Homo sapiens: one gene and its partner. The protein of the gene in region 2 binds, or shares a complex with, the protein of the main gene of each other region. Each region holds a gene or a part of one and is shown on either strand. Other genes may lie near its edges. The genes, in order: BMP10 and ACVRL1. A codon is read from its position in the direction of its gene.

What was found.
Region 1: the proteins of ACVRL1 (region 2) and BMP10 are in contact, whole or in part, in a crystal structure (PDB 6SF1), measured with the Homo sapiens proteins. Residues at the interface, in NP_000011.2 of Homo sapiens: His40 (codon at 5,165), Val54 (codon at 5,123), Val56 (codon at 5,117), Arg57 (codon at 5,114), Glu58 (codon at 5,111), Glu59 (codon at 5,108), His66 (codon at 5,087), Gly70 (codon at 5,075), Asn71 (codon at 5,072), Leu72 (codon at 5,069), His73 (codon at 5,066), Glu75 (codon at 5,060), Leu76 (codon at 5,057), Phe84 (codon at 5,033), Val85 (codon at 5,030), His87 (codon at 5,024); in NP_055297.1 of Homo sapiens: Tyr322 (codon at 8,019), Asn357 (codon at 8,124), Tyr358 (codon at 8,127), Pro359 (codon at 8,130), Ala361 (codon at 8,136), Glu362 (codon at 8,139), His363 (codon at 8,142), Pro366 (codon at 8,151), Thr367 (codon at 8,154), Lys368 (codon at 8,157), Ile371 (codon at 8,166), Leu375 (codon at 8,178), Leu378 (codon at 8,187), Lys379 (codon at 8,190), Ser381 (codon at 8,196), Lys386 (codon at 8,211).

The regions. Positions count from the first base shown.
Region 1 is NC_000002.12:68,858,258-68,873,960, reverse strand, and holds BMP10 (bone morphogenetic protein 10 preproprotein), read left to right. Parts: upstream 1-2,563; 5' UTR 2,564-2,602; coding exon 2,603-2,936; intron 2,937-7,389; coding exon 7,390-8,330; 3' UTR 8,331-13,052; downstream 13,053-15,703. UniProt on the Homo sapiens protein: Required for maintaining the proliferative activity of embryonic cardiomyocytes by preventing premature activation of the negative cell cycle regulator CDKN1C/p57KIP and maintaining the required expression levels of cardiogenic factors such as MEF2C and NKX2-5.
Region 2 is NC_000012.12:51,902,617-51,918,319, reverse strand, and holds the start of ACVRL1 (activin receptor type-1-like isoform 1 precursor), read right to left. Parts: upstream 10,817-15,703; 5' UTR 10,625-10,816; intron 5,938-10,624; exon of another isoform or gene 5,851-5,937; 5' UTR 5,846-5,850; coding exon 5,785-5,845; intron 5,222-5,784; coding exon 4,970-5,221; intron 4,762-4,969; coding exon 4,550-4,761; intron 4,347-4,549; coding exon 4,247-4,346; intron 3,882-4,246; coding exon 3,735-3,881; intron 3,096-3,734; coding exon 2,820-3,095; intron 2,285-2,819; coding exon 2,087-2,284; intron 778-2,086; coding exon of another isoform or gene 622-777; intron 1-621. UniProt on the Homo sapiens protein: Type I receptor for TGF-beta family ligands BMP9/GDF2 and BMP10 and important regulator of normal blood vessel development. On ligand binding, forms a receptor complex consisting of two type II and two type I transmembrane serine/threonine kinases.

The DNA of each region.
Region 1 (15,703 bases), on a different chromosome or scaffold from region 2:
CATGGATCCAAATATTTGACCCTGTAGTTTTTCTAACACCAAGTACAGGGAAGCCAGTGAAGTCTCAGTTAATGTTTTTATGCTCAAGAATGTAAAGAACTAGAACTCCGCAATGTGGGATGCATGTCTCTCCCCGTGACCTTTGAAACCAGTGTGCTCAGGGGTTGTAAGTACCACCACTTACACTGCTGTCCTGTGGCAGTTACACGCACATGCCTGCATTCAGAGTTTTGGAGTGTGCGTTGACATCTGTGTGTGTGTGAAGATAAATGGGTGCCTGTTTGGATGCAGGACATGATACAGGGCATTGCTGGTATGCTGTCAGAAACCTCATGTGAAAACGAACCACCCGAAGGACGGCTTCTGGCCCTTGGAGTCACTCACTCACTTGTGGGACTGTTCAGGGTATAATCTGTCTCCAGTCTACAATTGTCGTTTTACTATGGGAATAGAAAGTTTGAATCAAAATTGAACATTGAATCAAAATCAAAACTATTAAACAAATAGACAATTAACAACTACTAAACAAAATATGGTTCTTTCTATGGTAATTTAAAAAATGGCTGTAACATTGTACATTTTAGGAGGAAAAAGAATCAAAAGATGACTAGAAACCTAAGTGAGCCTGGAGAAAAAGTTAAGTGGAGACATTGTAGCTAAACGATGAGCATGAATATAGGAAAATTTAACCTAGAAACTGAGAAAGGATTCCAGTGAACCAAATATCTTGACACAGCCCTTGGAACACAGCACCAGGACGCGTGAGTAATGGTGTGCACGTCAGAAAGATACCAGAACTACCACCTCAGTGGGAAAAACATCCCCTGGGCTTGTCCGCAGGGCCTCTCTGGCTGCACCCCGGCTGCTACTGTCACTAGTTAGAATGGAAAATGTGATGAACCTGATTTGTCTTTCCTAATCTGGACACACAATCGATTCTACCATTTTTATTTTCAGGACCAAGGCATTTGGCGTTTTTTGTGTGCCTAGTAATGTTGTTTGCCGAGTGTATTAGTCAGGGTTCTCTAGAGGGACAGAACTAATAGGGGATGGAGATATATTTCTGAGTTTATTAAGTATTAACTCACACGATCACAAGGTCCCACAATAGGCTGTCTGCAAGCTAAGGATCGAGGAGAGCCAGTCCAAGTTCCCCGACTGAAGAACTTGGAGTCCCATATTCAAGGACAGGAAGCATCCAGCATGGGAGAAAGATAGGCTGAAAGTCTAGGCCAGTCTCGTCTTTTCACGTTTTTCTGCCTGCTTTATATTCTAACCGTGCTGGCGGCTGATTAGATGGTGCCTAGCTAGATTAAGGGTGGGTCTACCTTTCCCAGCCCACTGATTCAAATGTTAATCTCCTTTGGCAACACCCTCACAGACACACCCGGGATCAATACTTTGCATCCTGCAATCCAATCAAGTTGACAGTAAGTATTAACCATCACACCAAGCTTTTGCTGGAGCCTCTTGATGACAATTTTGATTGAGTCAGAAGGATGAATTTCGCAGAGATGTTGGTTATATTAACAACTCATTGCACAGATGGAGGACCTGAGGTCCACATCCAGCTACAAATTTCTGCCTGCCTCCTGCCTCCAGGCTGATCTGGGGACGTGTTGGCCTCTCAGCATTATTGCCCATGCCCTAGTCTGGTAGAAGAGTGGTTTAAAAGTGTGACTGTTTTATTCTTCATAAGAATCAGGCTGCCTTGGTTGAAATTGTGGCCCCATCACTTTGCAACTTTGTGGCCTCTGGCAAGCTATGGCACTTCACTGACCCATATATGTGATGGAGATAATGATACGGTTATTACAGGAGCACACTTGATGATAGGTGTAAAGCACTCAGTACAATGCCTGTTTGTAGGAAGCATCTAATAAATTCTAGTTGCCAGTATAACTAAGCACTTGCCCTATTTTTCAAATGCTATTTTAGCCAGATCAAATAGGTAGGAAAAAGCCTGTCAATCATGAAGTTTATACTTTCCTGTTTCTAAAAAGGTACACTTCTAAAAATTTATATAATTCATTTATAGCTATTAACTTAAACTTGGAAAGTTTGGATATTTGGTCTGTCTTCACAAGTGTTTATCTGAGCCCTACCTCTCAAATTAACATGTATCACCATTGATGTGCATTATGTTGATTCTTATACCTATTATATGCATGTGTGAAACTAAGCCCCATAAAAACAGAATTTAGGCATTCCTGCTGAAAGGAAGTGAATTGAAGGGAAGAGAAGCAGAGCCTTTGCAAAGAGAAAATTGTCCTATCTCTCAACCAGTGTCAGAATGTGGAAATGTTTACAAAATGCTCATTAAAAGAAATAGGGATTGCAAGATAGAAACAAATTCTGGTGCACAAGTTTACACTAGGGAGATAAGAAAGGCTAGGCCCCTATAGGGGATTTTGTTATCCAATTACTGCAACCTGACTTTTAGGGGGAGAGGAAGAGTGGTAGGGGGAGGGAGAGAGAGAGGAAGAGTTTCCAAACTTGTCTCCAGTGACAGGAGACATTTACGTTCCACAAGATAAAACTGCCACTTAGAGCCCAGGGAAGCTAAACCTTCCTGGCTTGGCCTAGGAGCTCGAGCGGAGTCATGGGCTCTCTGGTCCTGACACTGTGCGCTCTTTTCTGCCTGGCAGCTTACTTGGTTTCTGGCAGCCCCATCATGAACCTAGAGCAGTCTCCTCTGGAAGAAGATATGTCCCTCTTTGGTGATGTTTTCTCAGAGCAAGACGGTGTCGACTTTAACACACTGCTCCAGAGCATGAAGGATGAGTTTCTTAAGACACTAAACCTCTCTGACATCCCCACGCAGGATTCAGCCAAGGTGGACCCACCAGAGTACATGTTGGAACTCTACAACAAATTTGCAACAGATCGGACCTCCATGCCCTCTGCCAACATCATTAGGAGTTTCAAGAATGAAGGTAAGTTTTTGCTGATGAAATTTTGCTAGGATTTTTTTCAAGACACAATAAGTAAATTTACAATGCATGGGAATGATATAGGTAAGGGTAAATACATCTATATAAGGATGTTAAATACATATGGATACACAAAAACAAGGCACATTTTGTTCTATACCAATTATATAGTCATTTCAGGAACCTCGAAAAATACTTACAAACATCTTTTAATCCAAAGCCACAAAACATCTATCAATTTGACATCATAATTGGGTCCTTTTAAAAAATGTTAATTTGAACACCAAGTAATACAAAGAATTAATGTTGGTCTACTGCCGTACCTTTGTCATTTTCCAAATAGGCCTTGATTGCCATATGGGCTTTTAATTAACTAAAAAATTTCTCAACTTCTACTTAGAATAAAAAGGGTAAAAACAGTCAAAAAACATCAAATTGTGATTTGTGTTTTGTTCAAACTTTTGATAAGTTTTTATTTTGTGACCTTATTTAAGAAATGTTCAAACAGGATGGAAATATATTTTAAAGATTCTTCCTAAGGCTGTGTTGTTTGATGTGTCATGTACATCCTTAAAGCACTGTTTACAGTTTCCAGGAAGTGTAGATGGCCCATTAATCATCCAGCTCATCATTTCCGTCTTTATAAAGAGCAACGTACAAGCTTTGAATTATTGGTGGGAAAAGTGTGTTTTCTTCTCTTAGGTCTTTAAATTTGGTAACTAAATCTAATGAGCTAGCAAGTTAATGTTTTTGTTTGTTTGTTTGTTTGTTTGTTTTTTGGTTAATATGGTCCTAGTAGGAAAAAAAACCCCTGATATCTAGATATCTATAGTAGAAGCTGAAGGTCCAAAGGAACTAATTTAATTTTTGCCAGTTATGCTTTTATAGTCACTAACCAGGTATAAAAGAAGCTTCCCGTTAATATTGGCCAGATGTTCTTGAAAGAAGAAAGGTAATAGTGAAGAAATAGCTCAGGATTTGGGATTTTGAGAGCTAGTTGGCTTAGTGGTTGTGAATAATTAGCTGATGCCTCAGAGCCTCAATTTCCTCATCTATAAAGTGGGAGTAATAATACCTACATAACATAGTTGAGTGACTCAAAGGAGGTTACAGATAAGAAAGCACTCCATTTACTATGAAGTGCTGATCAAACTTTAGTGACTACTAATGAGTTACTTAATATTCTAGGTACTGGAATAAATGTTGAGTAGGTATTCCTTAGTCCCTAAGATATTATCTCCCTTTAAAATTGAGTTGGCTGCCAAAATTTATAATTCATAATATCTTTCTCATGGAAATGGCAAGTTGAGATTACAGATTGCTTTTGGAGGTGAGTCTGAATTGAAAATGAACAACTTCCTCCTGTAAGAACCCTCCCTAATACTTCTCAGCACTGAGCCCTAAGTGTCTGGCTCAGGGTGTGGGTGAGAAAATGTTGTTTGCATCCCCTGGAAAACTAGAAACGTTTTCCGTTCTCACTTCTCTCATAGAGTATCTGGATGATCCAGGTCAGGATGTGGAGTTTACTGTGCTTATTATTACTGGAGATTATTGAGGGCAGGAACACATCTCTTAGTAAACAACCCAGCCGCCAGCACCTCTGCCAGTCTGCAGGAAATGTGCAGCCTGAGGACAGAAATCGCACAGGACATGCCCTGTTGGCTACTATTGCCTCTCTTCTGACTCTTTGGATCTGCTTAGTGCAGCTCCCTAGGAGAGAAAGACCAAAAAAACTCCAAACCTACCCCATCTTGGGAAAAAAAAGTGCCACCTCCAAGGTGAAAAAAGCGTGCTCCTTTATCACCTTGTCATTTGGGGAAATCAGTTATCTGCATCAAGGCTTGATTTATTCTGGTGCAAAACGAGTAGAGAATCAATACCTGCATTATGGGGTCATTGTGAGAACCAGAGAAGATCATGCTTGCAAAGCACCTGGCATGAGAAATTTGTCAACAAACATTCGTTCTCTTGCCCTGAAATGTAACTCTTCCATCTATTGCTTACTGCATTTGCACATGCACAGAACTTCACAGTGAACTTACTTTTTCAAAACAGCTTTATTGAGGTATATTTGACTTATAAAAATATGACATATAAAAATATTGATGTATAAAAGTATAATCGCACATATTTAAAGTGTATAATTTGAAAGGTGTTGACATATGTAACATTCATTGAAACCATCACCACAATCAAGATCATGAATATATCCATTAAAACCAAAAGCTTCCTTGTATACTTTGTAATGCCTTCCTCCCACTACAGTGAGCTCTTATTTTATACTTTTCTCCTGGGTAGAGCAACCAGCCTACTCTTCCATGTTCCCTGTCCATGGGGAGTCAAGTCTCTTCCCTTCTTAGAGTGGAAGAATAACTCCCAAGCCCAACCCAAGAGCTTGATGATGGATTAAGGTCATATGTCACGCCCATAAATCAATTTAGTCTGGTGCCTAGAATCATCAACTAATCAATATTTTTAAAGCACTACCTCTGTTTAAGCCATCATAGTAGGATAGAGACATAGAAGGGAGTTTTGAGCCATTCAAACCAGGAGGATGGCAATCTAGTTGGGAAAATCCATTCATAAAAAGATGGCTGAAATATAAGGACGTAAATGACAAGGATCAAAGGAGATATAAAGTGATCAAATGATTTCAGAGGGGAGAGGAGGGAACTTTCAGATGAGAAGTAAGGGAGGCTTTTATAGGAGATGTCAGAGCTGGATAGGTGGAGGTGAGGTGAAAGGGCTTTCCAAGGGTCAGAAGAACATGTGAAAAGGTGAAAATTGCAGGGAAAAAAAGAGTGTTTTGACAGGTGGTAAAGATATCAATGTAGTTAAAACAGAAGGGTTTACAAATCCATTCAATTGTTCACAAATATTATTGAGTAATCACAATGTTCCATGCACTGTGGAGGACGTATGTAAGCTATGGCTGATCAGGAGGTTAAGACCCAGATATAGCTGGTCTTGAGAGCCATGCCAGGGAGTTTAAATTTATTCTGTAGGTCAGCATTTCCCACTAGCAGTGTGTAAGATTAATTTAGGTGGTACCCAAAGAAAGCTATTAATCATGTGAAATTATTGTATATTTTTCTTAGTATGGATTTTTAGCAAACACACATAAATATCACCTCAAATCTCTCCTTTAATGAATTATGTTGCTTAGGAACAGTCTAAAATAGATAATAAGTATAAAATAATTAGATCAAATTAAAGAAAAATATTAAAAGATTATAATCTGAAACAGGGACTCACCGAGATCATGAACTAAGTATAAACTTGGGGAAATGCTGCCAATGATGACAGAGAACCCCCAGTTGGTGGTCCTTAGCATCTTCGGTGCCATGGAGTCCTTTGATAATCTGATGGCAAATGCCTTCAGGGCTTCCTTGTAGACTCATTACCTGAGGCAAGTGTGCAGGAGCTTTGGGCTCACTGTGAAATATTCAGATAGGAAGTCAACATGATCGTATTTGGAAGTATGCTTCTAAGACTAAAGGACTTTTACAGAGTTGATTCATAAACATTATTGAGTGAGTTATACATGTCACGCCCCATGCCAGGTGCTAGGGGTACAAGACTAAGGCAACCAATCTAGTCCCAGGATTCATTTTCTCCCATTCCTCTTTATAGAGAACCATATAACCAGCAGTCAATTGCTGAGACCCTCTTGGTTTATGGCTGTCTTATTGGCCTTGTCAGGCTTTGTTGCCTAGAACAGAAGTCAGCAAGTTTCTACTGTAAAGGGCCAGACAGATAATAACTATTTTAAGCTTTGCAGGCTATATGTTCTTTGTTGTATCTATTTAACTCTGCCATTATAGTGCAAAAGTAGCCACAGACAATACAAAAACAATGGATGAGGCTGTGTTCCAATAAAACTTTATTTCCAAAAGCAGGTAGCAGGCCCATATTGGCCCATAGGCTATAGTTTACCAACCTCTGATCTAAATGGAGGTCTTTTAGGAAGACCAGTGTCCAGCCAACTGTGCGGGGATCTCCACCCACTACAAACACAAATATTAAAAAACCATGAAGTCCTCATCCCCGAAAAGCTTCAAGAAAGGAACAATCACCACATGTCCCATTTGGTGGCGTTTTGTTTGTTAGGAAATTTGGGGACTTGCCCACACAATCTCCAAGGTCCCTCCCAGTTCTGTAATTCTGTGGCTGATGAGCTATTCAAGCAAGGTTGGCTGAGTTTTATGCCATCCATTAGACCCCCATTTTCCATTTTAGTCTTGGCAGCTGAACTCTTTTGGGCATTCTACCACTGACCTTTTGGGATTTCCTGTGTCACAGAATGCTGACATTGTGTTTGTTCTCATTGATTTTCTCCCTTCATTCTTTCTGCATTAAGCTTTGTGCATGGGAAGGCCTTCTTATTACATAAATAAGCATCTGTTTTTCCCTGAGACCCACTGCAAACCTGATTTTTGCAAATTTCTTTTTTCAGATCTGTTTTCCCAGCCGGTCAGTTTTAATGGGCTCCGAAAATACCCCCTCCTCTTCAATGTGTCCATTCCTCACCATGAAGAGGTCATCATGGCTGAACTTAGGCTATACACACTGGTGCAAAGGGATCGTATGATATACGATGGAGTAGACCGGAAAATTACCATTTTTGAAGTGCTGGAGAGCAAAGGGGATAATGAGGGAGAAAGAAACATGCTGGTCTTGGTGTCTGGGGAGATATATGGAACCAACAGTGAGTGGGAGACTTTTGATGTCACAGATGCCATCAGACGTTGGCAAAAGTCAGGCTCATCCACCCACCAGCTGGAGGTCCACATTGAGAGCAAACACGATGAAGCTGAGGATGCCAGCAGTGGACGGCTAGAAATAGATACCAGTGCCCAGAATAAGCATAACCCTTTGCTCATCGTGTTTTCTGATGACCAAAGCAGTGACAAGGAGAGGAAGGAGGAACTGAATGAAATGATTTCCCATGAGCAACTTCCAGAGCTGGACAACTTGGGCCTGGATAGCTTTTCCAGTGGACCTGGGGAAGAGGCTTTGTTGCAGATGAGATCAAACATCATCTATGACTCCACTGCCCGAATCAGAAGGAACGCCAAAGGAAACTACTGTAAGAGGACCCCGCTCTACATCGACTTCAAGGAGATTGGGTGGGACTCCTGGATCATCGCTCCGCCTGGATACGAAGCCTATGAATGCCGTGGTGTTTGTAACTACCCCCTGGCAGAGCATCTCACACCCACAAAGCATGCAATTATCCAGGCCTTGGTCCACCTCAAGAATTCCCAGAAAGCTTCCAAAGCCTGCTGTGTGCCCACAAAGCTAGAGCCCATCTCCATCCTCTATTTAGACAAAGGCGTCGTCACCTACAAGTTTAAATACGAAGGCATGGCCGTCTCCGAATGTGGCTGTAGATAGAAGAAGAGTCCTATGGCTTATTTAATAACTGTAAATGTGTATATTTGGTGTTCCTATTTAATGAGATTATTTAATAAGGGTGTACAGTAATAGAGGCTTGCTGCCTTCAGGAAATGGACAGGTCAGTTTGTTGTAGGAAATGCATATTTTCCTCTCCAGTTAAGTCCCTTTCAATCTGTTTTCTCTTTGGACTTGCCATTTCCTGGCAATGCCACCTCCCTGTTGATTTGAAAACAACCCCTAGGCAAAATACAGTGTCAAAAGACACACACTTGTGTATGTATATTTGTACATACATGAACTTACAAAAATCTTTTGGTTCTATGCAGGCAGGTTATACTCATCTACATGCATGACTCACTCAAATGTATGCATATTAAAGGCCAATGGTATGTTCTCTGTTACCTCTTCTCTGAGTAGGATTTAAGTCAAGATAATTGACATCAGGGTTTTAATCATCCTAGGAAGTATTACCCTTCCTAAATACTCTGGAAATGTAAGTGTAGCTTTTGTCAGTTGAGTTTCTGTAGTTGCTCAGAGAGGAGGGGCCTGGCAAAGGATGCTTGAAGGGAAGGGTTAATTGATACAGAAACCAAATGGACTTAAGAGGTCTTAGAGGTACAACAGGAAAAAATGAACCCATGGAGGACCAATGTGCTCCAGAGGGCAACTCCTGGTCAAGGCAGGAAAACAGAAGAAACCAGCATGAAATCTGTTCCTGAGACAATAGGAAAGCAAGGCCATGAGTACTGGCCATTGCTGCTGCAGAGAGTAGAGGGGTTGGGAGGGTACTTGAAGGGGAGAAAGGGAGAAAGGGAAGAGGATATTGATGTTATCCTCAGAGGCTATCCTCAGATGTGTCTGTAAAACCAAAAGTGGTTCTGTTTAAAGAATTAAATCTTTTGGACAAAATAGAAGTATCAAAGACTAAGAGGAGGAAAATCAGAAGGGGTCTGTCTGTTGGAAGAAAGGATGTTAATATCTTTCTTCACCTGTTAACACTGTTCCCTTGTCTCAGCACCCCTGCTTTCCTCTGCTCCATCTTCTTCCTTCCCTCTTTCTTCTTGGCCCTAGTGCCTCTCACCTTCCTCCCATCCCTGTGTCCCTGCTCTTCCCTGGCCTTCATGATGCATGCTGTGAACTGGAAAGGGACACCTAAGTGCCTTTGCTCTCAGGGTGAAAGGAGTTAGTGTTCTAATTTCTAAATCTTCCCGTGATATTTAATTTGATTTTATTTTAATAATATCCTTTATCAAATGTTTTGTTCATGAAGAATACTTAGATATAAGAGAAAAGAAAACCAGAATAAGTAAGTATAAGAAAAAGAAAACCAGAGTCCAAATGAATGGATTTAAATAAACGAATTTATGAATAGACACACAAGCAAATGACTCAAAAGCCAAGCCTGAATTTTGAAATCATGATTGTTTCATGGTAGAAACCCAGTAACTTTCCCATCTTCTCATCTTACCATCTTCCCATTTTGCAACTGGCCAGGACTGAAAGTGGTGAGGAAGTGTTCTGCACAGGAAGGGTCCGGTGGGTTTTCCTGGCAGGTGGCAGCCTCCAGTCTTAACCCCTAACCATTTCCCTCTACCTGGCAAGCATATTCTGGGCTTTGTGCAGGAGGAACCAGAGCAGAGCAGAGCAGTTTCCAAACTGTTCCAGCATCTCCAGGCAGGGAACATGGATGGTTCCTGTTAGAACCAGGAATGTGGTTTCCAGTACGTCATCCCCCATTCACCCCTACTCATCTTAAGGAATGCTTCCTTAAGAAGTCTGACACTTTTTTCTTTTTTTTACCCTGGAAAACAATCAGTCCCCTTTTACAAATCTCTTAAGGTTATAAACTCAAACTGCACTAGACAATAGAGGCAAGGAAAACTATTTTGAAGAAGGCCCAATTTGAACCTCAGCTCGCTAGATCTGTTGTCTGCTGGGTGAATCCTGGGGAATTCATTGCTCATGGAAGAGTGGTGTTTTGACCGTCAGTGGGTATACAGTGATTGATGCTTTGAGAAAGCCATGCAACTCAGAATCACTATTTGTGGAACAGCCTCCATATAACATGATGTGTGTATGTGTGTGTGATGTATAGCTGGCTTTGAATAACCACGCTTAATACCCTCAGTGGAACGTGGTGCATCCTTCATACTCCATGGTACACAATGTATACTCACATACTCCAAGGTACTTCTTATCCTTTCTAAAGGACACTGTAATACATACACAGTAAAACCTCAGCTGACCAGGATAGTCCTGGTTAGATAAAAATTAAGCAAATTTTCTTTATGTCTAATACATATGACAGTGGTGTGCTGGTAAAACCCTTACAACCAGCAATCCAGGGGGAGAAAAAGCCCTGATTTGTGGATTTCAATGCTGCAAACGCTCCTACATGGTCTATCTTGAGCTGCCAAGGTGATGTCAACTGGCTTGCAAAACTTCTAAAACCTAAGTCAGCTCTTGGGAGCTGTGCACTGGTGCTGGCACACCGCTGACATTTAGTATCCCACTGACATTAGCACACCGCTGACATTAGCACCCTGATACTAGAATGTTAAGGATGTGCCAGCCCTGCTTTCCACTGTGTGCGCTGCTGGCTCCGGGCTTCTGGAGAAATCTTGTCTCGAGCACTTATAGTCACTCTTCTGTTAAAGAGATATGAAAATATAGGCTGTTGGCGATCAGGCTGCATAGCCCAGTTGTTTCTTTCTGCCCATCCAGATGTAAACCTGCATTTCTATGATTTTCTGCTTCCCTGTGGAAAGGGAGTGCAGAGAGCAACATATTGTTATTCAAATGTTGCTAGTTGTATTTTTTTGGCTTTTTGTCAGAAAGTGAAAAGACACAGCCCGTAGAGGAGTTCTCCCAGCTCCCACCGGAACCCCGGCAGCACACCGGTGTCACTTTCAACTCCTGCATTGACAGGAAGCCAGAATATTGTCAGATCCTTAAAAAGGTAGAATCTTACTAATGTTTCTCTGGTCATAGACCTTCTTCTGGGTCCCATGCCAGTTTTTTTCCCCCTTTTATTGCAGAATTATCATCACCGAAGTTGATATAGCTAAACAACTCTTGAGGAGAATTATAGCAGAGGGACTTGGGCAGCCCACAGCCAAAATATTCATGTAAGAGTTTCTAGGCTTCCCACTATTTATTGATTGATATATTTATTTTTGTAAAATATTGTAGAATACCAAATATTTTATTTTTATGTCTGTGATTCCCTTTTGGATAGAGAGTCTTCTGGGCTTCAGAGTATGGCTCACATATAATATATGGCCTGTATTTCCATCTCTCTCTTTTTGCATCAGAATATTCTATTGGTTTAAGGAATCTTGCCATAGCTTGCCATAATTTTGTATATTTGTGTCTTGCAGGCATGCTGTGCCTACAAGCATGCTTTGTAGTATATTTTCTGATTTGTAAATAGTACAGTTTTAACTGAAGTGTAGATGTTCCAGGAAATATTTAACCAATACATTGTCATGCAGTTTCATAAAGTGATGTTGTCAGTTTATCATGAGAAGCAAATATTGTCAGGCTGTGAGAGAATGTGATTGCTACTCAGTAAACGGAGATGCTATTTAAATGAATCTTTTCATCCCCCAAATCTGGTACTTCCCCTCTGAATTCACCTGTTGCCGTCACTGACCCAGAAATTCAGAGATGTGATTGGTCAAATTCATTTGTAATTGGACCAATTACTTTGTAAATGTCAAAAATGTTAGCTTAGTGATTTCCAAAAGAGTCAGCCCCAAAGTGCCGAATTCTTTCCTGATGTGTAAATTTTGGTCCGGGGAATTAATGACAAAAACCTTTTTTTTTTAAGAACTGTTACTAAATGTTTCAGTATTTGTTATGATTTATATTCTTCAAGTAAAAGATATTTTCATATAAGAGAATTTTATGTATTCTTCTTACTTGATTCATCAACAGATTATGAAGCCTAGCAGTGTTCTGGCAAAACCTTTTTAACTTGCCTAGAACACAGAAGGGATGTTGCCCTTTTTAAGGTTGTAGATCTTTTCAGAGTCACTGTGGGTCATTCTCAACCCTTTGCAGTTCTGCAAGCTCACATATGGTGCAAGAGGAAATGCTGGTATGACTCTGTGCATTTTCTTGCCCCCAAACAGGAACAGTTGATTTCCTACATTAAATGGAAGGTAGATGTGACTATGGAAGAGAAGTACACAGGGGTGTTTCTGCATGTGAAATATTTGTCATAAGTTAAAAACCCATCATGGAATAACTGTTTGTTGTGATCAGCATGTTTTTATCACACATGGGCACTGGTTTTGTGAGCACCTGGCTTGATAGTGGTGGGGCGGCCAATGTGCCAGCGCCCGCCTACTGAGCATTCATGGACATTGGAAATCAGCGAACACCACAGACACACCGAATCAGCTGATGCACGGTCATGTTCTGGGGTAAAACCTGTTCATTATCCATGTCCACATTTGTATAGTTATCACTAGACTAAAATGAAGATGGAAATAAATATTTTACCCTGTGTTCATGAACCAAATGTGTACCTTCAGAGTCTTTTTAAGTAAAATAAAAAAATTATTTTGGTGATAATTATTTGCAGCTTATTTTTCCTTGAGGTAAGGTATTTAATTTTGCACACTCCCCACTTTTTCATGTTTCTACTTGATAACATATCCCGATGGAATAAAACTAATTGCTATATTAATAAAGAATGGTCTGAAGAAACCATAAGTTGTTTTTGGCTTGTAACTGACCTCAGTAGGGAGTGGGATTTTGTAGCTCCATGGTTCTCCCACTTTATATGACTTTGTGTAATTCCCATTAATGCCACAGGCATTCACAGAAAATACAATTGGCTCCCTTTTGTCAGTAGCTGGGAAATATTTCTTCTTTGAATACCAAAGGAGGCAGTTTAGAGGTAACAGTCCTGGCCAACAGACAGACCTTGCTGCTTTTTCACGAAGGAAATTCATTCTTATGGCAGAATGTGGAATTTGAAGGGCATAGGGACAGCCCCAGGTAGAATAAAATCTCTTCCATCAGAAAATCATCCTGCATCACTTTTTTTGAGGGGACGCCTCCAGTGTCTCAGCTGGCAGGCTGAATCTGGCAAGTGTGTCGGAGGGAAGCACAGCCTTCATCCCTGGATGAGCACTGATAAGGTAAGACAGGGCTCTCCCATGGAGGAAAGGGAGCTGAGAGCCCAAGATGGGGCTGAGCCCAGGACTGGACTAAACAGACCTGAAAAGCCACTCGTGTAATTTGATTTTGAATTCTTTAGCAACCTATTCATTCTCTTCTTTAAATAAGTCCGTTTATAAAAGTCTGTCACAATGTGGGGTCTGGAACCCATCTCTGCAATTGGTTTGACCTGATCACAGCTATGCTGGACCAGCCGCCTTGTTCTGTGATTTCTTTCCTACTGATACAGCCTGGAATTGCACTAGGCAGACACACAGCTGCAAGTTATTTGGGGGGTAGTTTGTTTACAAAGTAAGATAAAAAATTATTTTCAAAGCTCACATTATACATTTATAATATGTTACAGGTTCTAATAGTATTCCTGATGTGAACTGAACTTTGTGGTATGGGGAAATCATGCCATGAGATCTCTGCATGTGACTCCAGTCACATGAATGAGAACCCACTTTTGTATAGAAGTGACTATTTGTAAATAAGGGGCCTATTTGGAGAAGGTGAGAGCTTGTTAACTTGGGTGGTTTAAATGGATTATGTGATTATCTCCAACTCACTCTCCTGAACTGTCAGTTTACAAGAAACAGCTCCTGCCCTCTCTTAACCTTCCTCAGACCATTCACACAGATCTAAAGTAGCTCATCTCATTCCAAGAAGAAAGCCCAGAAATGCATAGACAACGCAATACGTTTTTACTCTTAAATGTGATTCTGTGAATCTTATAAAAAATTTAGGCCACTCAGTTCAAATTAAGATTGATGGGAGGTGTGAAGTACCATTGTCAACTCAAGATTTGCTAGAAAGTTTTCACACACAGAACACTGAGCCCACTTCCTTGCACAGCATGGGAATGGTTTTAGAAAATTTAGTTCTAACTCCTTATTAGTATCTCACCTAAAATGCGTACCATAACCTTACTAATTATGAGGAAACATCAGATGAACCTATTTTAAGAAGATTCTGCACTCTTAAAAAGTCAATGAAAGGCAAAGAAAGATTGAGAAACCGTTATAGATTTAAAAAGACTAAAGAAGCATGACAACTAAGTGCAGTATGTGGTCCTGAATTGGATCCTAGACCCCTCAAAAACTGGCCAAAAGCACATTATCTTTTTGTTAAGTCCACTGCTGCCACAGCTGGTAGAGAGTCCAACTTCATCCATTGTATGCTCTCAAATGACATTCATTTGTAAAAATCTTCTGCATGGTTATTGCTCTTTTTCTGAAACTGTGAGAAGCTATACAGGAGTAACTAGGCTTTTGCTCAATGCAATGTCCAAGAAGCAGGCAGACAGCATTAAAAATGAAACCTTTCTTTGCTCAGTAGCCAAACTCAATGCAAGGAACAGAGCTGAAGGGAAATTGTTCATCACATGGCAAACCTGATGTTAATAAATGAGCTGCAATAAAACATTTTCCTGAAATAACCAAACTCAACATGCTTTTCAGGCAATAAGCCATCTGTTTCAAGTGTTTAGAAAACGGATCTCCAATCACTGGTAATTTAAACTTCCTTATACCCCAGTTCAATGTTTGATAAGGAAAGAGTGCTAACAGGATGGAAACTGAGTTACTATATTAAGAAACCCAGCAAGAACAAAAACCAGCCCCCTGCAGCTATTTTGTTTATGCTCCAGACCCATCTGTTTTAATTAACGTAATATTTACATGAGACCAGCTCCTGTTACGTCTTTTGCTGCAAATATCGCATGTTTTATTCTTTGTTGTTGTTGTTGTTCTTGCTTTTAAAAGAGATCCTGCAAAAGCACAGTTGCAGACTATGCCTGAGCGAGGTGTACACCGGGGAATTACACCTGCATTCTAGCTCCCCAGGTCCAGGCTCACCTGCTTTGTGCAGTTTGGGGTCAGATATCAGGTTGCCAGATGAAATACAGGATGTCCAATTAAATATGAATCTAAGATCAAACCATGAGTAGTTTGTTTAGTATAAGTCTGTCTCAAATGTTGTACAGAACATACTTATACTAAATAATGTTGGTTGACTACCTGAAATTCAAATTTGGTTGGATGTTTTTATCTGCTAAATCTGGCAGCTTAAGTCAGGTATTGCTCAGAAGGTTACATGAGTGGAAAGATCCAGAGAAAGATGAAGTCGTTTGCCTTTCCATGCCTAGAAGGGCTATTCAGAAGATGACTAATCACAAAGCATTAATTTGTTTACAC
Region 2 (15,703 bases):
AAGCCCACAGTCTAACACCAAAGCATGTGCTCTTGACCTCTGAGCTGCACTTATCTTTTTACCCAGGTCCACATAACATCACCCAGTGTCAGGGATGGCACAGGCCTCTGCTGACTCCTGCAGCCAGCACTGACCCCCTCCTCTTGGTATCCCAAGTTCACAGTTTTTAGTAGGAGCTTTCTGAAAACAATGCCGGTGGAGCCGCAGACAGCCCCGTGCCCCATCCTGTTTCCCAGCCTGAGGCTGGGGGCCATGGCCACACAGGCCGCAACCTCGATAGAGCCTTCGCCAGCTGTTCTCCCCATGGCCAGCTTCCAGGCCGGCCCCTGTGCCGCTCACGCCCTAATCAGTGCTGCACAGAGGCCTGAATGTGTCTAATGGGCCTTTAATCAGTGCCGGGGCTGACACCAGATTACAGTGTTTATAATGCGCCGCGAGTCCGTGTGGGGCTGATGGAGCTTCCCCCTCCACCCCAGGCAGCCTCCTCCCAGCCTTTCCTTTCTGCCCTGCAGCCTGGTCCAAGGAGCCTTGGCTTCTTCCAGGTTCCTCTTTCCCCCGATCCCGGTCTCCTTAGAGCCCACTCTGGCAATTCATGCCCGGAGTCTTGAGGAATCTAAGCACCTCGTGAGTCTCCCCAAGGGACCGGTGACACCACAGCCTCTGTTTTCAGTTGATGACCACCGAGGACAAATGAAGTCTGGCATGGGGCTGGCTCCTGGTAGATGCTCAGGAAATGAGGACATCCTTGTCCCCAAGAAGCAGGGCTCCAGCCATATCCTGAGGATTGTCCCCAACCTGTCACGACTCCTGGAAGTCCCTCACCATGGACAGCCTCCTCAAAGGTTGACAATGCTCCCACCAGTCTAGACGACCCACCTATCCTCCGTCCACTCCAGGGCTGAGAGAACATCGACCTCAGGGCTGCCTGCCCAGGGCAGGTCTCTCTACCTGTCGCAGTCCCTCTAAATCAGAGTCCCCTGTGGCAACCCACAGTAACAACCAGGCAGCAATAAGCAGGCAGTGCAGGCACTCACATGCATTGCGTGCATGAGGAAATCAAGGGCCAGAGAGGTTTAAGTGCACACAGTGATGATGAGCACTGGCCCCGGGGCAGACTGCCCGGTTTCGGACCCTGATGCTGCCTCAAGCCCACTGTCATTCTGTGCCCCCGTCTCCTCAACTGTAAAATGGGGACAATATGATGTCAGGCACTCATTCTATCTACAACAATAACAGCCACTAATATTTAGCTCTAGATACTGTTCTAAATACTTAGATTATCTCAACAACTGGAAGCTATTTTTATTCTCATTTTATTTATTTATTTTAATAAATTTTCTTTTTTTGAGACAGGGTCTCACTCTGTCGCCCAGACTGGAGTGCAGTGGCATGATCTTGGCTCACCGCAACCTCTGCCTCCTAGATTCAAGTGATTCTCCTGCCTCAGCCTCCCGAGTAGCTGGGATTACAGGTGTGTGCCACCACAGCCAGCTAATTTTTGTATTTTTAGTACAGACAGGGTTTCGCCATGTTGGCCAGGCTGGTCTTGAATTCCTGACCTCAGGTGATCTGCCTGCCTCGGCCTCCCAAAGTGCTGGGATTACAGGCATGAGCCATCGCACCCATTTTACAAATGAGGAAGCTGAGGCACAGAGAGGTCAAATAACCTACGCACGGTCATGGCAAGATCAGGAATAGAACCCAGGAAGTCTGATTCCAAGCCTATGCTCTTAGCCACTAAGCAATACCACTGCCTTGTCCATACCAAAGAATTAAATAATACATGTAAAGTGCATAGCATGGCATCTGGCACATATTTAAGCTCAATCAATATTAGCTGCTATTAATATTTCTGTTATTATCATGTACCCAAGATTTCACAGCCAGACTCACAGACCCTGTTATCTGTTTTTAAGGTTTATACCTTAAAAGGTCACTCAGCTGAACCAGCTGGTGGGCAGCATGGAAGGGGTGCCAGGAGGTCTGACTGCAAACCTCCCAGGCCATGGGCACTGGCCATGGCTGGAAGCCCCTGGCTCCACAGGCTGATTCCCCTTTCCCTACCCTGTGTAGGGTGGGCCCTCACCATTCACGATGGTCCGGCGGGCAATCTCCCACAGCACCAGGCCAAAGGCCCAGATGTCAGTCCACTTGTAGGACTCAAAGCAGTCCGTGCGGATCTGCTCGTCCAGCACCTCGGGTGCCATGTACCGCTTGGTGCCCACTCTCGGGTTGTTGCCGATGTCCAGGTAATCGCTGCCCTGTGAGTGCATCACAGCCAGGCCTGTGGGGGTGAGGCCTGTCACTCCTGCCCCTCTCCCAAACCTGGGATCCAGGGGGCAGGCAAGGTGGGGACTGAGAGAAACAGTGGGACAGAGAGGGGAAGGCAGATGGAGACGTGCACGGAGATGGGCTGGAAGGCAGTGGCCACAGAGAGAACCATGGCCCCAGGTACTCTTTGCTTGTGTAGTGCTCTCTAGGTTCCCAAGAACCCAGCGAGATGTGAGTGGGCAAGGCAGGCATTATGAGCCCACTTCACAGAGCAGACCTGGAGGCTGGCGAAACCAGGATGAGAACCCAGGTTCCTGGCTCCTGCCTCCTTTCTCCCAACTCCTGGAGCCAGGATGGTATGGTGGAAGGAATCTGGGTTTGAAAAGGGTGTTCAGACAACTCGTGGGGTCTTGCGGAGGAGAACTGAAACAACATGCACCTCTAAATTTTCAAGTGCTAATCATGGTCACCGCCCACAGGCAAAGGAGAGGAGAGCGCACAAGCTCCGCCCACCTGTGAAGGGCGCGCCCCTGCCCCGCCCGGCTCACCCAGGTCGGCGATGCAACACTGCAGGTTGCTCTTGACCAGCACATTGCGGCTCTTGAAGTCGCGGTGGGCAATGGCTGGTTTGCCCTGTGTACCGAAGATCTCCACGTGCAGGTGCGCCAGGCCGCATGCCGCGGACACAGCTAGCCTCAGAGCCAGATGGGGCTCCAGCGTCTGTCTCTGCAGAAAGTCGTAGAGGGAGCCGTGCTCGTGGTAGTGCGTGATGAGCCACAGCTGCGTGCTCGAGTTGCGGGAGGTCATGTCTGAGGCGATGAAGCCTGTGTGCAGAAAGGTTGGGTGACTCAGCCAAGGGGCTGGGGCTAAGGGAGGCTGGAGTCGTCAGGGTCAGGGTGGGGTTGGGGGAGAGGGAATGGACTGGGTCACTGCTAAGCTAGGTCTGGGGGTGGGGGTTGATGTGGCTTAGGTCAGAGACAGAGCTGGAGTCAGAGGTTGGGTCTGGGCCTGGCTTAGTGGCTTGCACCTGTAATCCCAACACTTTGGGAGGCCAAGGCAAGAGCACTGCTTGAGCCTAGGAATTTGAGACCAGTCTGGGAAACATAGGGAGACCTCGTCTCTACAAAAAATAAAAAAGTTAGCTGGGCATGGTGGCACATGCCTGTGGTCCCAGCTACTCAAGAGGCTGAAGTGGGAGGATCACTTGAGCTCAAGAGATTGAGGCTCCAGTGAGATTGCACCACTGCATCCCAGCCTGGGTGACAGAGCGAGGCCCTGTCTCAAAAATTAAATTAAATTAAATTAAATTAAATTAAATTAAATTAAATTAAAAAAAGAGGTTGATGCTGCAGGTGGGCTGAGAGTCCTTCAGGGTTCTGTTAATGTCTGGAGGTCTGCAAACTTGAGCCCTGAGTGCAGGGGGGCAAAGCCCCAGGCCTGGCACAGCTGGCCTCTCCCCTTGCCTAGGATGTTGTCGTGTCTGAGCAACACTGTGTTATAGATCTCAGTCTCCCGGAACCAGGACTGTTCATCCCTCGAGGAGAAGATCTTGACGGCCACACTCTCACCGTGCCACAAGCCCCGCCACACTTCGCCATAGCGGCCTTTTCCTGATGGCCAGAGGGGAAGGTGAGGGTTACACACTGGGCACACAGAGCCCTGGAAGAGCCCCCCATCTTGATGCTGCGCTGCCTCCCTCGCCCACCCCACCCACAGAACCCCAGACCCTTAGGTTTAACTTAATCCAGACCCAAACCCAGTGGCAGGCCACCCCCAGCTGCCTCTCGTTCCACCCCGGTCCTGCAGAAAGAAGAACCTAGCCCTGGCCCGTCTCCAGCCCACTCCCTGCCCAGCAGAATTCCAATTCTGACCCAGGCCTGGCACCGCCTGTGATTCCAGTAGCCAAAAACTCCCTCACCCCTCCAGGCTCATGAGAGCCCTTGGTCCTCATCCACCGGGCTCACCCACTGCTCACCCACACACTCCACCAAGGCAACCTGCCGTGCCACTGTCCTCTGCACCAGGAAGGGGAGCCCTGAGCCACTCCCTGTGGTGCAGTCACTGTCCAGGAGGTCCTGGGGGTACGGAGAGGCCACTGAGAGGCTGCCACAACCAGCCACAGCCCCCTTCTCTATCCTCGACCTGGGACCTGCTGGGTCACTGCAAGCTCCTCACTCGCCCAGCTCCCCACCGGCTCTAATCTCTGGGTGACCCCTCTGATTCTGCAGTTCCTATCTGCCCCTCCTACACCCTGTGTCCCAGGTCCCCAGGCCCATACCCCCAACATGCTGTCGCCCTGCTCAGATGCTTTCAGGATGAGACTGGACTCTCCCAGCTCGCTGTGCAGGCCACGCTGCTTCTCCTGCCTCCGTCGGACATGCCACAGGCCCAGGACACCCAGGGCCACCAGGGCCAGCAAGGCCAGCACGGGGCCCAGGATCAGGGCCAGCTGGCCATCTGTTCCCGGCTGCTCCGAAGGAGGTTGGGTGGCTGAGGGAGGGGGACACTGAGGCTCAGCTTCCACTAGGTCAGCTCCCCCCACCTCGGGCCAGACCACTCTGCCAGTTAGATCCCAGAGTCCTGCCCACCCGCTCCCCCGCCCCCAGCCCCTTTATTGGCCAGAGCATGAGAGGAAAGGAGGGAAGGGAGGGCAGGGGCCAAGAAGATGGGGAGGGAGTGCTAGGGCAGCTGGACGTACCCTCCAGCACCAGGGACACGTTGTGGTTGCAGAGGTGGCTGTCGCAGCAGTAGTGGTTGACGAACTCGGTGGGGCGCCCCCTGCAGAGCTCCCTGTGCAAGTTCCCGCAGCCCCGATGTTCCTGGGGGTGCCTCCCCTCCTCCCGCACCAGCACTACTGTGCACCAGGCCCCCCGGCAGGTAGGCCCCTTGCAATGTGGGCTCTCACACGTGCAGGTCACCAGCGGGCCCCGAGACGGCTTCACAGGGTCTCCTGGAAGACACACCGGAAGCTCAGCCACTGTGGTCCCAGCTCCCCCAGGCTGAGCCCGACACCCATTTCTGTCCTACTGTCCCTCTCGTCTGACCCCTCAGACAAACACCTTGAAGCTTTGGTCTCTTACTTTCATCCTCAGTCATCCTTCCCTCAGAACCCTCCCCTCAGAGCAGCTGACACTCTGAAAAGCAGGCTTTTGTCCCCTCCTGGCTCCTAGGTCCTCCCCTCCCAGTTCTAGGCTGGGCTGGGCCCCCAGCCCCAGCCCTGAGTGCTCTCCCAGGCTTGGCCTGCCAACACCTGCTCTCCCTCCACCCCACATATAGGCTTCCACCCTAGTCTGACAGAGCTCCAGCCTGCAGGTCTGGATCAAGAGGAGAGCAAAGGAGGGCTGGGGTAGCTGGGGACTGAGTCTAATGGAGCCTCACTGTCCTCCACTCTCCAGTCAAGCTCCTACATTCTCCCCAGCTTCTCAAGTTCAGCCCCAGGCAGAGCTGATCTGGGCCCAGATAGCCCTTTCTGTATCCAGGTTCCTGTTTCCTAACTGCTCCCCCAGTACTCACCCTGGGTCACCAAGGCCATCAGCAGCATCAGAAGGCCTTTCCTGGGGGAGCCCAAGGTCATGGTCCCTGCAGAGAGGAGCAAGAGAGGTGGAGTAAGAGCCATGAAGTGTGACAGCCGCTGGCCGTGGCTCCCTCCTGCCCAGAGGAAATCACAGAGTTTTTTTTGGAGGGGAGGCAGGGAGGCCGCCTCCCTACTCCCTGCCGCCTGGCTTTGGGGCGGGGCCTGCAGGGGAAGTCCTGGTTCACTTCCCCATGGAAACCATCCTGTTAGAGGTGAAGGGTGGAGAGCAATGTTTAAGTGACTGAGAGCTTGGGGAAACCCTAGCTCTGCACTCCTGCTGCTGAGCTCAGACTGCAGGCAGGTTGGGAGAGCCGCAGGGAGCACCCAATTGGGGTAGAAGGAGCATCTCTCCAGCAGCTCCCCTTCTGTTCTGTGTCTCTTTCCCACTCCCTCACAGCTTCCACCCCTGCCTACCCTTTCTCAATGCCCCCCCAGCCCTGGCTGCCTCAAACATAAACAGGCTCCTGTCTTCGCTTCCTGCCATTCAGGGTCCTGCCAAGCCAGGAACAGGAATCAAGATTGTTTAGATTGGGGTCTGGATAGAACAGGCAGGAGTCACGCACAGCAGGGAACTGAGGGCATATTTTCAGGGTGGGCTGCAGCAGCCACAAGGTCTGGAGGGGCTTTTTAAATATGCCCTTAGTTCCTTGCTACCCTTAGTTCCTTGTGCCTGGGACACCCACATGACAGAATTCTAGGTGGACATCCTGTGAATCACAAAATCCAGCTCCTTGTTTTACAGAAGAGAGGAGTAAGGCTCATACAGGGAAGAAGACTTGTCCCGGGTCAGACAGGACTCACTGGCACCAGCAGGCGTACATCCCAGGTTTCCAGACTCCTAATCAAGTGCTCTCTTCGCTCTGTCCCTATCCAGTGGTGGCAGCCCATGTCTGAGCCCTCAGGGCTATAACAACCATGCAAAGCTCGGACGGGGCAGGGTCATGCCAGGTGTAGAGAAACCTCTCTGCAAGCTCACCAGAGTATAAGCTGCCCTCTCGGAGCTGTTCCCTGGCCCCCTTCTTTCCCCTTGCCATCTAGGAAAGGGTGGGTGGAGGGCCAGTGATGTGGCAGGGGAAGTGAAACACACTTAGACACTGAATGTTTGACCTTCCATGGCTGACTAGGGTTGAACTTTTCCAGAAGTTTGTTGGAGAGTGTTAGGGGGAGTAATTCTGGTCTATGATAGTCCCCAATCCAGGTCCCACACCAACTAGTGCTTCTGAAGCCACCCAGTCTTCATTTCTCACAGGTTTAGAACCAGAAGATATTGGCTAAAGCTGCAGCAAGAAGGACCCTGGTCAGACAGCAACAGGACTTTCTGAATGGTGGAGCATGTGCAGGTGTGTGTCTGGGGACTGGATCCTCAGGCAGGGCACAAGGCAGGGAGACTGTCCTTTGGCATGACATGGTGAGCCTGACAGGGCTGGGCACATGGCCACAGAGGCTTCAGAAAGCCCATAGTCTAAGAATGGTGCCAAATGAAGACCCAAGATGCTGAGGCTCTGAGGGCAGTATGGCTAGGGGTGGGGTAGGGGGGCTTCATAGGCCTCTCTGGCTGGTGGCAGGCCTGGCCTTCCTGCCTGGGCTTCCTCTGCCCCAGAGGCCCAGGCTGGGGGAGGAAACAGAGCCCTGGGCTGCTGCAGCTGTGTCCCCAGCCTCTGCCTGACCTCCTGCCTCTTGCCCCTCCCGCAGCCAGTGAGGACTCTGGCTAGCACTGTGCGGCAGGACTGACGGTGGGATGGGATGGAGAGAGCACCCTAGAGGAGCTGAATCTGCCCACTGGGGTACTAGCAGGAAGCCATCCTTGGCAGCCTTTGCTAGCCCAGAAAGCTGCAAAGGAGAGGGTTTGAGGTGGAAAGGAAAAAGTGGCTAACAATAAGGCTAAAATCCGGCATTCCTCTAGGATCCTCTGTCCGTACCTCTACTTCTCTGGCCGTGCCCCAGTCCACCCTCCTTCTACTTTATCACGCATCAGAATCACCTGAAGTGCTCACTGAGAAAAGCATATTCACTGGTTTCACCCTCACTCCAGACTCTGATTCAGTCCTGGAATCAGCAAGAAACATGCATTTTTTAAAAGTTCCCCAGGGAGTTCTGATCAGTTTGTGTGGGCACAACGCTAAGTCTGGTTCCTCTGCTTTCATTTTGCTGTACAGGGCCCTGCTGGGTGAGTGGGAGTGGGATGCAGAGGGAGGGGACACTCACTCCCACCCAGGATACTCCCCATCTACTACAGAAGGGACAGCCAAGGGTAAACACCAAAGCTGGGACGTGGTGACACTGTGGAGCGAGGCTGTCTGCATCTGCAGAACCCATCTATGGTCTAATCCTGGGAATGTGATGGAGTAAAATTGGGACTGTCCAATTTTTAACTGGACCCAGTGTGAGATCAAGTACAGGAGGATGCTGAGTCCCGACCAGTCCAAACTCAGAGCTGACTCTGTACGATTTACCCTGAAATCTGACTGTAGCACAGACAGACTCCTGGGGCCTGGCAGGATCCTTTCACTTCTAAGCAAAACTTTGTGAAAGATCTCCTGCTGACAGAAGCATCACTATTGTTGGCCAGAAATTACAGACGTTAAACTAATTTCAAACGTTAGCTAAACACTATGAAATACTTAATAATAACAGTTAACCTTCTCTGAGTACTAATTATGTGCTAAGTACTGAACTTGAATGGTTTATCTGATTTAATCATCACAACAGTCCAACGGGGGAAAGTGAGGCTCAGAGATGTTCAGTTTCTTGTCCATAGTCACTGAGCGTGTCTTAATAAACTTAAATTGCTGATAATAAATCATTCCTTGGTCATTGTTATTCCTCCAGTTGTTTGGGGTTAGATGAGTCCCTCAAAGGAAGAAAAAGACATGGGTCTCGGTGGACGTGTACAAATTGCCCACTACTGTTGTTATTAACGGGTGCCCTACTCAGATTTGTTTAAATGAAGACAGCGTTTTTGTTTGTTTTTAATTTTTTTTGAGACAGGGTCTTGCTCAGTCGCCCAGGCTGGAGTGCAGTGGTGCAATCATAGCTCACTGTAGCCTTGAACTCCTGGGCTCAAGTGATCCTCCCACCTCAGCCTCCCAAGTCCCAAGGGACTACAGGGGTGCAGCACCATGCCCAGTTTTATTTTTAGTAGAGATAGGGTCTCACTATGTTGACCCAGGCAACAAAGGTGGTGTTGCTGCCCAGAAATCATCTGTTTGCCATAGGCTTAGTCAAAGTCTGAGCCTCAGGTGGGGAGAGCCAGAGTAGTGGTATGCCCGAAAGGTGCTTATCAATGTTTTTCTCCCTAGCACACCTGAAGGATTGATAAAACCTACTCCCATCAACGGCAGTGGCTCAGCACAGCAGTGATCTTCACAGGGCTGGAGAAGCGCCATATCAAGCACAACCTTCTGGACTCACTCTGCACTTCAGTAGGCCTTACCCCAACAGCAGAGGAGCAGACCCAGCTGTTCATATTGGGTTGCCCTTACGATTCATCCATGTGATTTATTAGCCCTTCACAGCGGGGTGATGCAGTGGAACATCCAGGTGATGCCTGGATTTTCAGGTCTCAGGCAGACCATGGAGGCAGCACAGTGTAGCACAGAGGTTAGGGTGTGGGCTCTGGAGCATGGAGACCTGGGTTCAAATCCTGCCTTTGCCACTTAGAGGTATGAAATTTGAGACGTTACTTAAACTTTCTGAGGCTTAGGCTTCCCATCATATGTAAAGTGGGAATAATAATAGTGTTATCTCATAGGTAAAATGTAGTACAATTATTTAGCAGAGTATAAGTAGTACACAGTAAGCACTGAAATGTTATCAAGACCCCAACCATGCCATTCACCCCACCATCCAAGGAGTTTTGGACAAGTCCCATATTCATGTCTGTTTCCTTTTCTGTAGGAAGGGGATAGTAACCCCTCTTCCACTAGGTTGCGGCCAGGATTACATGAGAAAAAATATATATATCTAAGTGTCTACATAGTTAGTACTCAATCAATGGTAGCTATTTCTAACAAACCAATGAAATGGGGGGACAGGTGAGAGGACAGGTATTAGGACAGACCCTGACTCAGCCAGAAGCTGGCCATACATAGAGAGAGTGAGAGCAACTGTCCATTATGCCCCTGTCCTTGGAGAAGGAAAGAGGAGCTGGGGCAGCCAGCCCAGCCATGGGTTTCACAGCACTGGCCTCCATGGAAAAATCTGGGGTCCCAGCCTGGGGGGAGACTGGGATCCCCTTTGGCCTGGATCCTGAAGGAAGGTCGTGGCAAGGAGGTGACTGACCATGCGCGCCTAGGGTGAGACTCCTAGGTTGGAGTGATAGTGTCAGATTCCTCAAGCAACAGCTGGAAGGACTGATCTGGGAAAGGTGAGCTCTGCTGGGAGGCTCAACAGCTGTGGAAGTAGGCATTCACTCCAGGTCCACCCAGCGGCCTGGAGGACGTGTGATCCCTTCTATGTGAGTAGAGCAAGACAGGAATCCCACTGCCCATTTTATGAAGAGGGTAGGAGAACAGAGAAGTGAAGTCACTGACCCCAGGTCACCCGACTAGAACCAAGTTTCTGATTTCCAGTCCAGTCTCGTCCATTCCCCTCCAAGTCTCAGGTAGGGTCATGGGAGCTGTGCGTGGTCAGCCAGGAGCAGCTTGCCTTTCTAATGAGCTGGGACTGAGCCTCCCGCGACCACTCTGCGGTGACTCTGGGGTCCGCCCGAAGGAAGGGCCCACTGAAGCGGGGGTCAGGCCGCCCGCCACCCGGTCCCGTCCGCGGACCTCGACTCACCTCTGGGCCCGCTCTGCGGGTGGCGGGGCGCTAGCCTTCGGCGGACCGGGGCCACCTCCCCTCCACCGCGCGGCCGCAGTTGCACCGCCAGCGCTGGACGGCGGGCTGGGGTCCGGGCGCGGCCCCGGACCGGGCTGGAGCCGGGGAGGGGCTCGCTCGGCGCAGCTGGCGCGGCAGCCTCCCGGGACTGGGATGGGGGCTGGAGCAAAAATGTTTCTTATTCCAGCGTCTTCCTGCCTGGCCCAGCTCCACCACTCCCTCCTAATAAACCGTTTCCTTATTGCCCAGCTCGCCGACTGGCCGCCGCTCGCCCCTCGCTGGGGCTGCAGGACCGGGACCCACCCCCGCGCCGCTCCCAGCCCCTCAGGGCGGCCTCCCCTCCCAGCCGCCCGCAGCTCCCGGGTCGCTGGCCCGCACCCGGGCCGGGCCTCCCACATCCGCCTCCCCGAGGGGGCGGGCCTTGGACTCAGGCCGTGGGGGTCCTGTGGGGGTCCCATAGGGGTCCCGTGGGGTCCGGACCCACAGCCGTGGGAGACAGAGCCGAGACTGTAGGCAACGTCTGGCGGCCGGAGTAGTGGGTGGGGGTAGAGGGGGATCGGCTGGCAGCAGCGGAGGGGCCGCCTGGAATCGGGGCGCCGGGAAGGGGCCACCGAGGAAGGGACAGGCGGGGGTGGGACGGGGAGGGACACTACCTATCCTTACCCCACCCTCAGCCCGGGGGTCCTCGGTCTAGGAGGCTTGCAGCAATGAGGGCAGAGTTTGGGGCTAGCAAAATCCAGATGCGTTTTGACTCCGCCCTCGGGAACTCCCGACTTGGCCCAAATCCTTCAGTCCCCTCCCTCGGGCCCCTTCGTCCCCCATTTGTCCCCTCCTGTCTTCAGCAGCCTCTCCCGATCCGCACTCAGCACAGGGGTATACAGGCCCAGAGGACGGCCTTGGGTTAGCCCTGAGGATGGTTTGAGCCCTTCCTGGCCGTTGTGCAGCTGGGTGACAAAGACACCCCCGCCCCGCCAGGGACAGTCAGGATGGAGGGACACGCTGGGAGCAGCCTTGGACCTTCCCCTTCCAGGCAGGGCCCCCACCCCAGCAAATGGAGCTTTAGATAGAGGTGGGGAATGGAGCCTCCCTGGAACTCTGCTGACACAAGGCAGCTGGGGAGGGAAGCAGAATGGCTTCATACCGGCAGGGGAGGGGGACACAGACTCTTCCTGATGCTCCTGCACAGGCTGGGAGCACTGACCTCACTGCCCTGCTTTGCTCCAACCATCTAAGTACCTGCAGGACTCTGGTCTTAGTCCTAGCCTCCTGGTTATCCACAGAGACTCTGAAGTCAAACTACCTACTAGGAATGCAGGCTGGTTGTGTTACCGTAGGCTAGTGACACCTCTCCATGCTTCAGTCCCCCATCTGCTAAATAGGCATAGTAAACCGTGCCAGCCTCATAGGGTGGTTGTGAGAATAGACGGAAATGATGCTTATCTCAGCTCATAGCAAAGATGCTGGCTGGCTGAGCCTGACTCAGAGGAGGCCCTCAATGAAGGCGTTCGTTAATTAAATGAATAAATGAAAAGGCTGGGGAGGGGGTGGCCTCAGAGACACTTGGAAAGACGTGGGTATTAGAAGCAGGAGTAGACCTCTAAGGTGTCTTACTCTAATATGGGGATTCTACAAGATGAGCCAGGGACCCCTCCTCCTGCCCCGCCCCACCTTTTGACAGGAATAGAGGCTGGGGGAGATAATGGCTAAAAGCTCAGACAGGCATCAATTATTGACTGACCTCACTTCCTCTGCTGAAACCCTCCCCATCCCCCACCCCACAGCTGCTTCACAAGTTGTGAGCGTTGTGAATTCCCAGAACCCTGACACACCCAAATTTCAGTGTCAGGACAGAACTGTGTCCTGCAGCCAATAGGAAGTACTATGGGATTACGATATCTGCTCTTTCAGATTATAGCGGCCACTTGGGCCCTCTACGAGCTGGAGAACTGGGAGCCTGGCCGCGGGTCTGTCTTTCACACTCTCTCTCCCTGCTCCGCTATGGCTTCTGGTCAACCTTTTCCTCCCCCAACCCCTGGATCTCTGTCCTGAGAAGCGAGAGTCGGGGCTTCCCAAAGGAAGCCTTTAGTCTGAGAGGCACACTGAGCACAGAAACTTCGAGATGGACAAAAGCTGAGAGTCACTTCTAACAGTCAGTGGGGGATGGAAGACTATCTGGACCAGCGTTCGTGAAACAGATAAAAATAGAGTACATTTTGGGAGCTGGAAGAGAGGACCCAGGGGGGGCTGGAGTCTGTTCATCAGTGCTGGAATCTTCCCCATCTCCCCAGAGCACTGAGCCCTCTGGCCCCTGACTGGTGCTCTTTGGGGCTCTTGTGAACCCCATGCCTTCCAAAGCACACAGAGAACCTGGGGGAGGTGTCAGAGTTGGAGATCCAGAGTTGGAGAAAGCCCTGGAGAGTCATCCCAATGAGAAAAGGGAAAAGGAATTACAGACTGTGTCCAAGTCTACAAGAATTAATTACTCAGAGGGACCAGCTGTTCCCCATATTCAGTGAGGACAGAACAAGAGGAAACAGGCCCAAAGGACAAAGATTTAGATTTAGATACTCAGAAGGATTTCCCAACACTGCAGGAAGCAGAGGCCTGGAGATTCTGTGTGGGGTGAAACCTCAAGCAGATTCTCATCTGTGGAAGGTGGGTGACATGGAGTCTGTCAGGAAGGCAGGGCAATGGACACCTTCACCTTTCAGGACCAGCTATGAGTATTAAGTTCAAGCATCATTCTTTTTTTTTTGAGATGGAGTCTCACAGTGTCGCCCAGGCTGGAGTGCAGTTGCGTGATCTCAGGTCTGCCTCCCAGGTTCAAGTGATTCTCCTGTCTCAGTCTCCCAAGTAGCTGGGATTACAGATGCGTGCCTCCACGCCTGGCTAATGTTTGTATTTTTAGTAGAGACGGGGTTTCACCATGTTGTACAGGCTGGTCTCGAACTCCTGACCTCAGCTGATCCACCCACTCAGCCTCCCAAAGTGCTGAGATTACAGGCATAAGCCACCCCACCCAGACTCAAACATCACTCTTGATACTAGTGCGGGGCTGGCTTCATGGGAGTGTGACCTGTGCAGATGCACAGGGCCCCATGCTTGGTTTAATGCGCTGTCATTGCCATCTTAAAATTCTTAATGATATATTTTTTTTCCATTTATTTAGGTCTCTTTTATTTATCAGTGTTCTTGTAGTTTTCAGCATTTAACTCCTTTATGTGTTTTGTTACACTTATACTTTTTAAAAGCAATTATAAACAGGATATGCTATTTTTAATTTTTGTGTCCATTTGTTCATTAAATTATATAGAAATATAATCGATTTTTACATATTGATCTTGTATACTGTGACCTTGCTGAACTCACTTATTCAAGGGGGTGAGGTATTTGGGTTTTCTACCCCTCATGGATTCTTTGGGATTTTCTACATCGACAGTCATCTGCATCTGCAAATAGAGACAGTATTATTTCTTACCTTCCAATATGCATATCTTTTATTTCCTTTTCTTACCTGACTGCACTAGCTAAAACTTCTAGCATTATGTTGAATAAGAGTGGTCAAAACAGAACAGCCATCCTTGCCTTGTTTCTCTTAGGAGAACACACTCAATCTATTAATCATAATGTTAGCCGTAAGTTTCTTGTAGTAGCCACTCTATATCAGATTGAGAAAGTTCCCCCATTCCTCTTTTGTGTGTGTGTGTGTATTCTTATCATGGATGGCTATTGAATTTTGTCAAATGCCTTTTCTGCATCCACTGATACGAATTGTGTAATTTCTCTTTGTTAGTCTGTTAATACGGTAGATTATGTTGACTGATTTTCTCTTCTTTCTTTTTCTTTTTTTTTTTTTTTGAAACAGAGTTTTGCTCTTGTTGCCCAGGCTGGAGTACAATGGCGTGATCTCGGCTCACTGCAATATCTGCCTCCTGGGTTCAAGCGATTCTCCTGCCTCAGCCTCCCTAGTAGCTAGGATTACAGGTGCCTGTCACCACACCTGGCTAATTTTGTATTTTTAGTAGAGAAGGGGTTTCTCCATGTTGGTCAGTCTGGTCTTGAACTCCCGACCTCAGGTGATCCACCCGCCTCGGCCTCCCAAAGTGCTGGGATTAGAGGCGTGAGCCACCGTGCCCAGCCTATGTTGACTGATTTTCTAATAGTGAACCAGGCCTTACATCCCTGGAATAAACCCACTTGGTTATAATGTGTACTTCTTCATTATATATAGCTCAATTTTATTTGCTAATATAGTAATTTGCTGCATAATGAAGTTTCAGTCAAAAATATTCCACACATACAATGATGGTCGCATAAGATTATAAATGGAGCCAAAAAATTCCTGTTGCCTACTGACGTCGTAGTAACGCATCGCATTACTCATGTGTTTGTGCTGATGCTGGTATAAACAAACCCACTGCGCTGCTAGCCATAGAAACGTATACAGCATGTACAGCTATGTTCAATAAACAATACTTGATGATAAATGACAATGCTACTGGTTTATGTATTTAATATCCTATACTTTTTATTATTATATTTTAGAGTGTGCATCTTCTATTTTTTAAAAAAGTTAACTTTAAAGCAGCCTCAAGCAAGTCCTTCAGGAAGTATTCCAGAAGGCATTGTTATTACAGGAGACAGCAGTTCCACACATTACTGCCCCTGAAGACCTACCAGTGGGACAGGATGTGGAGGTGGAAGACAGTGATAATGATGATCCTGACCCTGTGTAAGCCTAGGCTAATGTGTGTGTTTAATAAAAAAAAAAAATTAAGTACAAAAATGAAATTAAAAGTTTTAAACATAGAAAAAAACTTATAGAAGCCGGGCGCGGTGGCTCATGCCTGTAATCCCAGCACTTTGGGAGGCTGAGGTGGGCAGATCACCTAAGGTCAGGAGCCTGAGACCAGCCAGGCCAACAGGGTGAAACCCCATCTCTACCAAAAACACAAAAAATAGCCGGGCGTGGTGGCGGGCACCGGCAAGCCCAGCTACTAGGGAGGCTGAGGCAGGAGAATCACCCCAATCCAAGAGGCA